2 separate regions of the Homo sapiens genome follow, and region 2 is linked to region 1. Evidence: fine-mapped expression QTL. A gene starts in region 1. The other region holds a variant in brackets. All regions are shown on one strand. Distances are between the middles of the regions. Region 1 holds the start of ERFL (ETS repressor factor like). Region 2 overlaps ARHGEF1 (Rho guanine nucleotide exchange factor 1).

The links. PIP is the estimated chance that this variant, and not a neighbour inherited with it, causes the effect.
Region 2: its variant is the best candidate, but not a certain one, in a credible set for the expression of ERFL in whole blood (TOPMed, PIP 0.75).

What each region holds. Positions count from the first base shown.
Region 1 is chr19:41,926,263-41,930,638 of GRCh38, forward strand. It overlaps ERFL (ETS repressor factor like), which reads right to left and starts at 2,187. Exons shown (of 6, transcript NM_001365103.2): 1 at 1,778-2,187. It also overlaps a transcript of ARHGEF1 not described here. RefSeq lists a silencer at 2,133-2,312 and an enhancer at 2,584-3,084.
Region 2 is chr19:41,892,972-41,897,347 of GRCh38, forward strand. It overlaps ARHGEF1 (Rho guanine nucleotide exchange factor 1), which reads left to right. Exons shown (of 29, transcript NM_004706.4): 8 at 303-332; 9 at 1,236-1,335; 10 at 1,480-1,576; 11 at 1,655-1,690; 12 at 2,378-2,515; 13 at 3,406-3,511. Among named protein-coding and RNA genes, the nearest start is that of ARHGEF1, 12 kb to the left of the region's middle. RefSeq lists enhancers at 1,481-1,981, 2,941-3,483. The variant G/A (reference allele first, on the strand shown) is at 1,776.

The sequences.
Region 1 (4,376 bases):
ACAAGTGTTACCTGGAGGGGCAGGTGAGAGGAAATAGGTGTTACCTCCAGGGCAGATGAAGGGAACAGGTATGGAGGACAGGTGTTGCGTGCAGGCAGGTATGAGGAGATAGATGTTACCTGGAAGTCCAGATTTGGGGAGTTGAAGGGGGAACATGGATGTGACAGGTGCATTGATAGACAGGTGTGAAAGGTTAGTTACCTGAGGCCACAGGTGGGTGCAGTGTGACTCTGCCAGATGGTCTGCCACCTCGATTTCTCTCGCTCCCCTGTCCTCCCCTCCCTGGGGAGCCAGTTCTGGCTCTCGGGTCCCTCCCGTGGCTCTGGCCCTGGGTGGGGCACAGAGTTAGCTCTGGGCTAGGCGAGGCCTGGCCTGCTGGCCTGCCGGGCAGCCAGGGCCCCTGAGGCTGCTTGGCGATGCGGAGCGCGTCTGGGCCGCGGCGGCCGGCCGGGAGGGGGGAGCGGGCGGGGGGGCCGTTTAGCCGTGATAGATCCGCGCGCCGCTTGTCTCTTAATCTCCAGAGCGACCGATCGATTCGCTATTTCCCTTTGTTGCCAGAAAATTCGATCCTGGGCCTGGAATTAGGTCCCCGGCTTAATCTGAGCGGAAACCAGCGAGGGGGAGACAGAGACAGAGATGCTGGGAGAGACAGAGACAGAGAGACAGTAAGAGACAGAAAGAGGCAGAGAGAGAGAGATAGAAAGAGATGCCGAGAAAGGAAGAGAGAGAGATAGATGCCGAGAAAGGAAGAGACACAGGGAGAGATAAGCACAGAGATTTAGAGAGAGATAGTCTTAAGAGTTGGACCCAAAAAGGAAGAGAGAGATGCTGTGAGAGACAGAGATAGAGAGACAGATCCTGGGAGAGTTAGAGGTGGACACAGAGATGCTGTGAGAGACAGAGACAGAGAGACAGTGAGGAGAGACCCAGCCAGGGGAGAGATAACAGAAGTGGCCCAGCAGGGCCCTGCGACAGTGGTGGAATGATAGAAAGGGTGTCCCAGAGGGCCCCGGCCCCACGAAGGTCAGGGCCAGGCCTGTACTCCTTGCCCCGAAGTGTGCAGACCCCAGAATTGGCCCAAATGTCCTTCCCACAGACCCTGTGACCCCTCATACCAAATATCCAGACCCCAGATATCCAGATCCAAATTCGCAGACCCTTAGCTTTGAACTCCAACTCCAAATCCAGACTTCTGGCCCCCTCAAGTCCAAACTCCTATGCTGATCCCCAGTCCCAGATATCCACACCCCCAGTCCTGACTCCCAGCCCCAGTCAGCTCCCAACCTCAGATATCTAGATCTTCCGCCCCAAGTGTCCAGTCTCTTGGCTTTGAGCCCCTAGGTCCCAAATATGCAAGCCCTCAGCCCTGACCTCTAAACCCCACTCAGAATCTAGCCCCAAATATCCAGACTCCTCAGCCCCAAACATCCAAATCCACCTTCAGGTCGGCCACCAACCCCCGTTCCCAGATTTTCAGTCCAGTCTCTTGCAGACCCCATCTCCGTGGCTCTCACTCGCTCTCCCTCCCCGCCCCCAAATCTCGCACCCCTGTCCCGAGGCCGCACCTCTAGCGCTACCCGCCTCCCACCTTCCCAGAGTTGGGCGCTGCCCCACCTGCCCCTTACAGCCGGGGCGGATGACCCCATCCGCCTACCCCTCCACCGGCTCGGAGGCCCAGCTTCTCAGGCCTCCCGGGACCACCCCCGCGCCCGCCCCCTCCTGGGGCGGGAATCCCCGCCCCCTCCCCGCCCCTGCGCCGGCCGCGGCGCTCACTCACTTTCTGGGCTTTTCGCATCCGCTCCGGTCCGGGGAGAAGTGTTTAAAGTTCGGATCCCGCAGCCATGGCCCCCGCGGCGTCCTGGGGAGGGGGCACCGGGGCGAGGGGCGGGGTGGGGGGAGATGCCCGGAGCCCCGGGGAGGCAGAGACCCAGAGGACGAGGAGAGGGAGTCTCTGAGACGCCGGGACAGGAGAGACTCAGAGACGGAGAGACAGCCAAGGAGACAGAGACGGGGAGACGAGCAGAGACGGGGAGATGCAGAGAGGGAGAGAGACAGCGAGATAGACGCGCAAAGAGAGCAGAGACGGGGAGAGCTGAGGACGGAGCTCCGGGCTGGAGCTCAGCACAGCGAGCGCGGGCGGGCGCGCGCCGGGGACAGCCTGGCCGGCTGGGGGCGCGGGGCGGCCCTGCCTCCTGCGCCTTCTCCTCTTCCTCCTCTTCCTCCTGCTCCTCCTCCTCCTCGTTCTCCTCCTCCTCCCTCCACTCCTCTGCGCGCCGCGCGCCTCCCGCCCTCGCGGCCGCCCGGCCGGGCTCGGCTCGCAGATATATGGAGGCGGCGGCGGCGGCGCGGGGGAGGGGGCGGGGGCGCGATCGATGGAATATAATTTTCCTCAAACTCGGAAAATAAAGTTCAGAGCTGATCAAATTTGAAAACAGATGTCGAATCGCGACTCTAAATAAGGTTCGATCCCGGGACTGAGGGAGTGGGGGTGGGGCGGGGGTGGGTGGAGAGGTGGAGAGACCCCCCTCCTCTCCCCTTCCCTTCTCCTCCGCCCCGCTCCTCCCTAAGTGGACGCGCGGACAAACGGACAGGCGCGAGGTGGAGGTGGCGACGATGCGTCCAGGACCCCTGCTGGACACGCAAGCCTGGACCGGGACTGGAACACGGACCCGCACACACGCAGCCTGGATAGGAGATACACGGACAGAGGGACATATGGATACAGTAAGACAGTGCAAACACACACTCAGGGACACACAACCCTACAGAGAGACAGACACAGACACACACACACAGACCTGCCATCTATACACGCAGCACACACATGCGGACCGTAATACAGGAAGTGGAAACACAACCGGTACACGGAGACATTCAGGCACACACAGAGAAACATATGCACAAACACAGCCTGCACACCACACCTTCCCCAACCCACAGCCACTCCCTGATCCACTGACCCACAAACTGGACACAAAGACAACCAGATGCACACACAGCCACACTCCACTCCCAACACACAGCCTGGACACACAAGCCCTCACTAACACATAGGCAGAACCCAGGGCTGGCACACTGACACTCCCCTTCACACTCCCACAAGGTCACAGGCACACACACGCACACCTACAGTGACAGGAAAGGGCCCTGCCCAGCCAGATCTGCTCCCATTGAAATAACAAGTCAATATCGACCAGCCTCAGGGCGGGTCAGACCCACAGTTCAGCTCCCGGCCGGCCGGACCTCCTGGCCCAACCTGACCCTCACCCTCACTGTCTACCCTCCTATTCCCTCCCTTGCCCCTTGCCCCTCGCCCCTTGCCCCTCACCCTGCCCTCTCTCCCGCTTCCACTCCCCAACCCACCACCCCCGACTTTTCTCTCCCATTCCCAGGTCAGGCTCCGCCCCGCCAAGTCCCACACCACCTTCTCTGGGGAAAGGCAGCTCTCACCTGGGCAGCCCCTGGAGGCTTCTACCCCTAGAGGGGAAAATAGGTCTCACGGCAAGACAGCAGTCCCCAGGTGGATATTCAGGGGCCAGGACAGCTCTGTCGGATCTCACCAACCCCACCAGCGCCCAGGTGCTGAGACCGAGGTGCTGAGAGGCTAGAAGAGAACTTCAGCCCTGCCTGACAGAGAAGGTTCAGCCTCACTCCCGCTCACCACTCACTCAGGCAAGTCGCTAAACATCCCCGAGCCTCAAGTTTCCTCATCTGCAAAATGGGACAATAATGACCTCCCTCCTAGAGTGGTTGGGAAGGTTAAACCGCAGGGCGCATGGAGCACAGCTGGTACTGCACCAAGTACCAAGTAAACACGCATTTGCTGTGAGCTTGCTGCTTCCGAATAATCTCATTAAAAATATTAAGAATTTTGCCAGATAACAAGAATTCCTTCACTTGTCTGTACCTTCACTTGTCTGAAAGGGAACATTCTTTCAAGGAGCCAACAGGCTTCACTGGGCTCCATTTACGACCCTTTCCCCCAGAGCCATGGTTCTCTGGGTGTCCATAACAGCCCCGGGACTGTCCACAGCCTACTTGAACACAGGTCACCAGCTACAGTGTTTGTGCATATGTTTCTGTGCGTGTGCCTGAATGTCTCCATGTACGGGTCGTGTGTTCCCACTTCCTGTATTACGGTATGCACGTGTGTGCTGCGTGTGTAGATGGCAGGTCTGTGTATGTGTATCTGTGTCTATCTCTGAGTTTATCTGTAACACCCAGCACACTACAGAGAGCATTCCCCCTCTACACCCAGCACACTACAGAGCCCCCTCTTGGCTCTGAAAGCCAAGGAGGAGGTTCCGGAACACCCTCTGGAAGGCAGGACTCCTCCCACACAGGACACCCTTTGGGAGAAAGGTGACACCCTCTGG
Region 2 (4,376 bases), 33 kb before region 1:
ACTGGGGGTCTTCCTCTACCCTGGTGTTTTAACTCACCTTGAATCCGAGTCTTCCCTTTCCAGCTTTGGGGTTCCCTTGTCATTTCTGGGTCTTGTCCATGATCTGGCACTTGGATCCCATCCTCCTGGATGAGAGACCTCCCTCCCTCTTATGACAGTCCTTCCCAATCCCTTCCACAGTGTCCCCTCTCTGTCTCTCTTCCCCCTGCCTATCCCAGGACAGCAACCCTGAGATGTATCCTGGGTGGATGGGGACCCCAGGCCTAGCAAATATGTCACAAACATCTCTCTTCCTCCTACAGACATACCATCTCTACCGACGAAGAAAAGAGGTGAGGGGGGCAGGGGAGGCGTGCGGCCTCCTGGGTTTGAGGGAGGAGGGGGCTGAGGGCCTGGACTCCTGGGTCTGAGGGAGGAGGAGGCTGGGGGGCCTGGACGCCTGGGTCTGAGGGAGGAGGGGGCTGGGGGGCCTAGACGCCTGGGTCTGAGGGAGGAGGGGGCTGGGGGGCCTGGACGCCTGGGTCTGAGGGAGGAGGGGGCTGGGGGGCCTGGACGCCTGGGTCTGAGGGAGGAGGGGGCTGGGGTCCTGGACGCCTGGGTCTGAGGGAGGAGGGGGCTGGGGGCCTGGACGCCTGGGTCTGAGGGAGGAGGGGGCTGGGGGCCTGGACTCCTGGGTCTGAGGGAGGAGGAGGCTGGGGGCCTGGACTCCTGGGTCTGAGGGAGGAAGGGGCTGGGGGGCCTGGACGTCTGGGTCTGAGGGAGGAGGGGGCTGGGGGGCCTGGACGCCTGGGTCTGAGGGAGGAGGGGGCTGGGGGGTCTGGACTCCTGGGTCTGAGGGAGGAGGGGGCTGGGGGCCTGGACTCCTGGGTCTGAGGGAGGAAGGGGCTGGGGGCCTGGACTCCTGGGTCTGAGGGAGGAGGGGGCTGGGGGCCTGGACTCCTGGGTCTGAGGGAGGAGGGGGCTGGGGGCCTGGACTCCTGGGTCTGAGGGAGGAGGAGCCTGGGGCCTGGACACTTGGGTCCTGGGCATTGGGTAACAGCCCTTGCCCCTGTCCTTTTGAACCCTCTCATCTCTCCTCAGAGTCTCACAGGAAGTAGTTGTGGGGTCAGGATGGGAAGGCCGGGCCTCTGCCTCTAGGGGGAGAGAGAGAGAGTGTGTGTGTGAGTGTGTGTGTGTGTGTGTGTGTGTGTGTGTGTCTTTGTGTGTGTTGAGCCCTCACTGTCCCTTCCCTACAGTGCTGCCGTGGTCAACGCCATTGGCCTGTACATGCGCCACCTTGGGGTGCGGACCAAGAGTGGAGACAAGAAGTCGGGGAGGAACTTCTTCCGGAAAAAGGTGCTTCCCTCAGTGCCCCGTCCTGACCCTTTCCTCTCCAGAGACGCCCTGGGAGCCTCATGACTCTGGATACCTAGCGTCAAATTCTGCTTTGTTGTTGTCTCAGAGATGCTTAGCCTGGTCTTCCTCCCCGCCCTCTCACAGGTGATGGGGAACCGGCGGTCGGACGAGCCTGCCAAGACCAAGAAGGGGCTGAGCAGCATCCTGGATGCCGCCCGCTGGAACCGGGGAGAGCCCCAGGGTAAGGCGGCTCTGGCCTCTGCCCTCCCCTGTCTTCCCCAGCTGCTCCCACTCACTGTCTCATTCTCTCTCGTTTCAGTTCCAGATTTTCGACACCTCAAAGCAGAGGTTGATGGTAATGTACCTGTAGCCATAGCATCCATACTGGGGGCCTGTGTGGGAGAGGCTAGGACCTGGACGCCTGGGTCTGAGGGAGGAGG[G/A]GCTGGGACCTGGACGCCTGGTTCTGAGGGAGGAGGGGATGGGGGCCTGGACACCTGGGTCTGAGGGAGGAGGGGCTGGGGGAGCTCCTGGGTCTGAGGGAGGAAGGGCTGGGCCTGGACCCCTGGGTCTGAGGGAGGAGGGACTGGGCCTGGACCCCTGGCTCTGAGGGAGGAGGGGCTGGGGGAGCTCCTGGGTCTGAGGGAGGGAGGCCTGGGGCCTGGACCCCTGGGTCCGAGGTAGGAGGGATTGGGCCTGGACCCCTGGGTCTGAGGGAGGAGCGGCTCAGACTCGGACTCTTAGGTCTGAGGAGGAAGGGCTGGGCCTAGACCCCTGGGTCTGAGGGAGGAGGGGCTGGGGGAGTTCCTGGGTCTGAGGGAGGAAGGCCTGGGGCCTGGACCTCTGGGTCTGAGGGAGGAGGGGCTGGGGGCCTGGACTCCTGTGTCTGAGGGAGGAGGGGTTGAGGGCTCCTGGGTCTGAGGGAGGAAGGGGCTCCTTGTCATGGTGGGGAAGGGCCTGAGCACAGCCTCTTGCATCCCCTGGCGGTTGTGGATTTGAGTTACTGTTCTCTTATCTCCCTCTTTCTCCCTCACTGTCTCCCCAGCCGAGAAGCCAGGTGCTACAGACCGGAAGGGAGGCGTGGGGATGCCCTCTCGGGACCGGAATATCGGGGCTCCTGGGCAGGACACCCCTGGAGTCTCTCTGCACCCTCTGTCCCTGGACAGCCCAGACCGGGAACCAGGTGAGAGTTTCCTGGGCCAGGGCTCCATGAGGCCCGGCGATCCAGGGTGGGGGTGCTGCCTGCCCCCTTGGCACCCCCAGATAGAAGCCATTCCCCAGCAACACCTCCCCTTTGCTCTCAGCATCCACTTCTCCCTGCTCCTGGTCACCACTGTCATTCATAACTTTCCCCTTCCCTCAGTTTGCCCTTTCCACAGCTTTGCTCCCAGGCTCTGACCTCTCTGCTGGTGCTGCGTCTCCCACCCCCTTGGACTACGTTTTCCATCAACCCTTCCTTTTCCAGAACCTTCCCTGAGTACATGACCAGTCCACCCTCTGAGCTGCATTGCTGGCCCCCTAGGTGGGGAGCCCGCCAGCCCCATGAGCTTCATCCCTCACCATCCTTACACTGCTGTGGCCTCAGGCCCTTGGATCTCTGCATGGCCAGGCCAGGGCTCACACACCAGCTCTGCTGACTGCTTGTGTTTATTTAGTATCTTGGATATGACTCCCCTTTCTTAGCCTCCGTTTGCTTTTCTCTAAAGGAGTATGAGAGGGTGGGGAGGATGAATGGACGTGGAGGCAGCACAGAATCCAGGGCCCTCCCGACCTCAGGGGGCTGCAGTCTGGTTGGGTGGGAGAGATGTTTGTGACCTATTTGCTAGGCCTGGGGTCCCCATCCACCCAGGACACACAGGGGCACCCACTTCTGTTGCATCTTCATGCTCCTGCCCCTAGTGGCCATGTTCTGAGAGGTCTTAACATCTGTCCGTCCCGTGCTGAAGTACAGAGCAGCCATGTGGTGTCTGCCAGGCACTGGGTAGCTTTAGCCCCCGCAATTCCAGGCCCCCAGAGTGTGGGTCTCGTGGCCGCAGAGGCCTTCCAGCCAGCCCTGCTCCCTCCACCCCACAGGTGCTGACGCCCCCCTGGAGCTGGGGGACTCATCCCCGCAGGGCCCAATGAGCCTGGAGTCCTTGGCGCCCCCAGAGAGTACCGACGAGGGGGCCGAAACCGAGAGGTGCCCAGGCTGGGGTGCAGGGGCGGGAGGTGTGGCTTACTGGGCGCTGGTGGGTGGGTGCAGGGTCACCGCTGCCATCTGTGCCTGCCTGTCCCAGGCTCTTGCTCCCCATGCTCCTCTGCTGCTCTCTGGGTCTGGCCATTCCTCTCCCTTCTTCTTTCCTTTTCTCATCTCCCTCCTGCTTCCTCATTGCCCCCCTTTCCTTTTATCCTTCCTTTTTCCTCTGCTCCTTCCTCTCCTTCCTTTTTTCACTAATCCTTCTCCTCCTCCCTTCCTCTCCACCACTCCTTCCATCTCCTTTATTTCCCCCTCCTCTCTCACCTCCCCTCTCCTCTCTCACCTCCCCCATCCTCTCTCACCTCCCCCCTCCTCTCTCACCTACCCCCTCCTCTCACCTCCCCGCTCCTCTCTCACCTCCCCTCTCTTCTCTCACCTCCCTCTTCCTCTCTCACCTCCCCCCTCCTCTCTCACCTTCCCCCTCCTCTCTTTCCTCCCCACTCCTCTCTCACCTGGGTTTTCTTTCCCCACCTTCCATCCCCCTCCGATCTCCCTGCCACTTTTCATTTTTTCAGCCCTTCCTCCCCTTCTCTTTCAAGCCCCCCTGCCCCCTGCCCCCCACCCCCCGCCTCGCTCCTGCCTCCTGGTGCCCGTCCCTCAACCCCCCACCCCTCTGCTCTGTGCCCTGGGGGCCCTGTCCCCCTTACAGCTGGGGGGCAGGCTCTGCCTCCTGCCCGTCCTTGTGCCGCTGCTTTGGGGACCCTTTGGTGGGTGCGGGGAGGTGGGTCAGGTTCCATCTGGGCCCACCTCTGACCCTGTGCCCCTCTCTCCCCAGAAGGTGGAAGAGGTGGGTGCCTGGGCCCTGGGT